Linked DNA regions of Homo sapiens: region 1 is linked to region 2. A link means that fine-mapping ties the variant in region 2 to the expression of a gene that starts in the linked region. Tissue or cell type: whole blood. Region 2 holds a variant in brackets; the other region holds the start of a gene. All regions are shown on one strand. Distances are from middle to middle.

What was found. PIP is the estimated chance that this variant, and not a neighbour inherited with it, causes the effect.
Region 1: it holds the start of TMEM63A, and the variant in region 2 is fine-mapped to the expression of TMEM63A in whole blood (TOPMed, PIP 0.99).

Annotation. Positions count from the first base shown.
Region 1 is chr1:225,881,025-225,883,704 of GRCh38, forward strand. TMEM63A (transmembrane protein 63A) reads right to left here and starts at 1,356. Exons shown (of 25, transcript NM_014698.3): 1 at 1,280-1,356. RefSeq lists silencers at 765-884, 1,445-1,604 and enhancers at 2,115-2,164, 2,225-2,274.
Region 2 is chr1:225,838,275-225,840,954 of GRCh38, forward strand. EPHX1 (epoxide hydrolase 1) reads left to right here. Exons shown (of 9, transcript NM_001136018.4): 4 at 380-607; 5 at 943-1,072; 6 at 1,555-1,763. It also overlaps a transcript of TMEM63A not described here. Among named protein-coding and RNA genes, the nearest start is that of EPHX1, 29 kb to the left of the region's middle. The variant C/T (reference allele first, on the strand shown) is at 1,221.

The DNA.
Region 1 (2,680 bases), 43 kb after region 2:
CAGGAGCTAACTCTGGTCTTTCAGATGCAGAATAAGGTTGCAAAGTAAAGTACAAACTTCTCCTTATGGCAACACCAAACAGGACCCAGTAACCTGGACAACTGTTTACCTCCTACCCTGGAGCACAAAGGAAATGACACAGCCCCTGGCTGAAACCAGAGGCAGTGTGGCTCAGGGATTATGTGAGCAGGCTCTGGAGTTAGGGTCTCAGCACCACGCAGTTCAGACAAGCAGCCTAACCACTCTGTGCCTTGGCTTCCTTCGCCAGGAAATGCGAGTGATGACTTTCTCTCACGGAGCTGTTGGGAGGCACAGATCCCAAACAACACCTGTAAAGCACTTAGCCCAGGACCCGGCCCTAGCAAGCAATTAGAAGCTGTCTGCCTTTATTTTAAGTCGCCCCTCCAGCTAATGGGAAACACAAGGGCAGGATCCCACCTGACGTCTTCTCTGTTAGAGCCCAACGAACAGCTAGGAGAGACCTTTGCCCCCACACTAAACAAAGGAGAGGGGCGTGTGAAGGGAAAAGGAGCCTCGGCTTCCGTTCATATCCCCCTTGAAGGCACAGCAGACTTGAGGATGACCTGAGAGGTGTCAAGGGAGGGTCAGTGGGTCCGCCACGCTGTCCACCCCTGCCCTTGAAGAGGACACCACCTGCCTGGGGCTGAATGACCAAGGCCCCTCCAGGGCCTCAGGTAGCTAGTCTTATCAGGTGCTGGAACCTTTGCGGATTTGGTTTCTTAGCAGAGCTCGCCTCACCCTTTCCGCCCCCGCCCTTCCCCCCAGTCCCCGAGTCCCCAGCCTCCCTCCTCAGGACTCCGCCAAGGCTGCAGGAAGTGGTCACCCAGGAACAGCCCGAGGGGTGGCCTCTGCCTTCCTGGCGTCAGGAGAGTCGGACGCTTGGCCCTTTCCCAGCCCGGCCTCGTATAGGGTCCGAGGAGCCCATAGCTGCACTCCTAGTTAGGTGGGAGGTCGGACTCCGCCGACAAATCCCAAAGAGAGGGGTGGGGAAGAAGGAGATACCAGCCCTGAAAGCGAAAAGCCGGAGAGGAAAGTCCTGAAAAGCCGCCAGGAATTCCCAAGGAGCGCAGGGCTGGAATGGAGGCGCTGCCCGGACCCTCTCCTCCCACCCAATCCCGCGTCGTCACCCCCTGCTTGGGGTCGGGGGCTCTGGGGTCTGCGTAGGCTGGGAGCCGTTCCGGAACCGGACACCTGGCGCGCACGTCCCGGGAAAGGCGGAGGGTGCATTGCCCCTCCTCACGCCCCCTGTCCCCTGTACCTGCGGCGGCGGCGTGTCTGGCGGGACCCAGCAGCGCGGGGCGTGTTCCGACCACTTAAAAGTTACAAAGTGAAACTCCGGCGCCTCCTGCACATGCGCAGAGCTGCGGCCACCCCTTTCCCAATTTGGAGTCTTGGCCCGCGGCGGCGCAAGCCTGTACGCAGCTGACTGCGCCTCCCGCGGTGGCCCTCGGCGGTCCTCTGCCCCGGCCTGGCCTCCTGGTCGCCGCTCAGCCCCGCAGCTCCTCCCGGAGGTCTGCAAGCCCCGGACCGGCCAGCTCACGTCCAGGCTCCAAGAAGGGATCCGCCGGGGCGCACCCTCTTCCGTCCCCCGGCACGAGCCCAGTCTCTGGACGCCTCCGGGAGAACTGGGCCAAGCACAGGGTGGTCGCGGCGCAGGGAGAGCATCTGCAAACGTTGGTCCCTGTAGTGCTTTGAATTTCCCCGAAGAGCTCTTAGACCCGCCCCGGGAGAGTGGGGTTGCGGGGGTGGTAGCATGGGGAGCTCAGCAGGATTCAGCCCGCACCTCGGCTCCGGGTAGTCGGGAACCGCGCGGAGCGCCCTGCAAGAGGCCACGGCTCCCCCGCCGCTGTAGAAGGCCGGACCGTGAAAGCCCGGAGGGTCTCCGTTCGGGCAAAAATGTGGGGGCGGGTCGCAGCATTTCCAACGCCCCCTGGGGCTAGTCCATTACTGCTCGAGCCAGGGCCGCCAAGGGCACCTACTCCAGCCCAGGTCCGAGAGCGCGGCATGCCTCCCGGCCGGGAGCCAAATGTTTCCAGGGAGCCGGTGGCCTCCACAACCGGACCGCAAGCTCGCGAGGGCAGGGCCGGCCCGCCGCGCCAGGGACTGCTGGGCGCTGCGCGGGAAGCGAGGCTGGGTTCGGGGAGGACCGCGCGCCCTGGGAATCAAGGAGCAAACCAACCCGTCCGCAGGCCCCTGTTTCCCTATCTGTGAAATGAGTGGTTGGACCAAAGCTTCCTCTCAGGTCCCTTCCAGCACCCCTCTCTGAGCTCTGAGCAGTCCTCACCCCACATGCATGCCTTTGCAGGTTCTCCGACCTCCCTTCCATTTCTGAGCTTTCATCTTTTTCTGTAACGGCATAAAAATATCCTCCTTATGGCCGGGCGCGGTGGCTCATGCCTGTAATACCAGCACTTTGGGAGGCCGAGGTGGGCGGATCACCTTAGGTCTGGAGTTCGAGACCAGCCTGACCCGCATGGAGAAACCCCGTCTCTACTAAAAATACAAAATTAGCCGGGTGTGGTGGCACATGCCTGTAATCCCAGCTACTAGGGAGTCTGAGGCAGGAGAATCGCTTGAACCTGGGAGGCGGAGGTTGCGGTGAGCTGAGATTTCACCATTGAACTCCAGCCTGGGCAACAAGAGCGAAACTCTGTCTCAA
Region 2 (2,680 bases):
CTACCCTCCAGATTTTAAATTATTGAACAAGTATTTATGGAGGCCTGCTGTGAGCCAGGAGCTGTCCTGAGCCCTGGAAACCCAGCAGTGGCTGTACAGACCTGGCCCAGCTGTCAGGGGGCACCTCTAAGGAAACCGGGAGGCAATAATCGTAGCTCCCTTGCAGGGAGGTTGTGAAGGCTGAGTGAGGACATCTGTGCACCTGGAGCACAGTGTGAGTGTGAAACCAGTGTCAGCCCTTATTACTGTCAATACCATGAAGGGGCGGCGGGGGCACTAAGGGTGGCAGGACTCAATATCTAGGCTCTGGGGGGTGCCAGAGCCTGACCGTGCAGGGTCTTCTCTCTCCCTCCACCCTGACTGTGCTCTGTCCCCCCAGGGCTGGACATCCACTTCATCCACGTGAAGCCCCCCCAGCTGCCCGCAGGCCATACCCCGAAGCCCTTGCTGATGGTGCACGGCTGGCCCGGCTCTTTCTACGAGTTTTATAAGATCATCCCACTCCTGACTGACCCCAAGAACCATGGCCTGAGCGATGAGCACGTTTTTGAAGTCATCTGCCCTTCCATCCCTGGCTATGGCTTCTCAGAGGCATCCTCCAAGAAGGGTACGGGGCTGCTAGAGGTTCCATAACTGCCCCGTCCTCGCCAAGGGTGGGCCCGGTGTTCCCACCAGGCTCTCCTTCCGGCGGGGTGAGCAGGGAGTTGGCCCGAGGAAGCTGGGAAAGGAGGGGCCTGAGAGGCCGGCCCCAGACACACCGCCCTCCGGGGCTGGAGATGCCACCCCTATATTTGGGCTCCAGGATTCCTTCTTGCCTCTGTGAGCTTTTCTGACCTCCACCTGGGGGTAGGCGGGCCTGAGAAATTTCATAGAACACCAGAGGGCCCAAGGAGCAATCTGCCTGTGACTCCGTGACTCCATGCCTTTCCCCATCACTGCCAGGGTTCAACTCGGTGGCCACCGCCAGGATCTTTTACAAGCTGATGCTGCGGCTGGGCTTCCAGGAATTCTACATTCAAGGAGGGGACTGGGGGTCCCTGATCTGCACTAATATGGCCCAGCTGGTGCCCAGGTGAGGTCACTGTTGGGGTGGTGTGTGTGTGTGTGTGTGTGTGTGTGTGTGTGTGTCCTCTAAGAAGTGGACCTGTGTGCAGGGTGGGCCAAGGACCCCCCAGGGGAGAGGAGGGAGTGTGACCTGTCACTCAGCAGTGCCTGAGGCA[C/T]GTTGACTTGGATCCTCCTGTCTGTAACCCAGGGTTGCGGCTCTGGGTCAGGTTCCCAGGCAGAGAAGGCCTGTGATAGGAGGGGAAGGTCAGGCATTAGACCTCTCTGCTGGACCAAGCTCTGGGATAGCCCTGAGCAGAACTCCCCAGAAACTGTATTTTTCCCCCAACCTCCCTTCTCCAACTCCCATGGCCTCCCCAGTGGGGCCAGTGCTGAAAGAGGCTGGCTCTGTGCTCGCTCCTCAGCCCTGAGGCCTGTTCCTCCGCCATCTCTCCTCTCTCCCTGTCCTTGACACCAGCCCAGCCTCACCCCGGCCCCTCTCTCTGCCTTCAGCCACGTGAAAGGCCTGCACTTGAACATGGCTTTGGTTTTAAGCAACTTCTCTACCCTGACCCTCCTCCTGGGACAGCGTTTCGGGAGGTTTCTTGGCCTCACTGAGAGGGATGTGGAGCTGCTGTACCCCGTCAAGGAGAAGGTATTCTACAGCCTGATGAGGGAGAGCGGCTACATGCACATCCAGTGCACCAAGCCTGACACCGTAGGTGAGTGTGCTCAGGGGTCCTCGCCCACTGCCGGCTCCACTGGGGCAGGGAGACACCCGCGGGGTAACCTCACCACCCCACCCCAATGCTGCCCACAGAAGGAAGCCTCTTGTAAGGACCTCCCAGCTCTTTAGATCTTTAAACTGCATTTTCCCATAGAATCAAGAGGATGGACCCTCAGCAGATTCCCAGGCCAATTTAGCAACTCTGTTTAGCCGACTCAGTATTCATAGTGGCTTTCACCCCTGATCTCCCACCCCTGAGTCTATATCCTACACTGAGAAGCAGAGGGATGGAGGGGGTGAGGTAGGAGGAATCCTGGGAGTGGGCAGCTCTGGGGCTGCAGGGGAGAGGGGAGAGGGTGCCCTGGGGCCTTGGGGAAGAGGTTCCCAGGCAGTGAGGGAGGGCCCAGCAACCATGTCTGCCACCAGGGTCCTGTTAAAGGACAATACTTTTTCAAAAAGGTAAATTTATAAAGGAACCAGTAAAATTTTAAAAAGAAACAATTCAAAGACAAATAAGAACACTGAAATTAATTTGCTAACAGACACAAAACTTGTCAACATCCACAGAGTAATATCAATTAAATCTCCATGGGACAAAATTCATTTGCCTCTATGAACAAGAGTCATTCGCATTACCCTCAGTTCTTTACAATTCACAGAACTGTAAAATAGCTCAATGACAAGGAAAGATGGGACCCCTGTAGCATCACGTCAGTCCGGAAGGTCTGCTAGGTAACTCCCTAGATCTTGTCCAGAAGACACCCAGGAATTGTCTTGCCCATCTCAAAGTTCTTCATAGTTTTCATGGCAAACCCATGCCCACACACACGAGGCAGCTCATAATCATAATAATGGCACTTTATAAAAGTCAGCATTTTTCTCTGATTATAAAATACATGTTGTCAAAAAGCT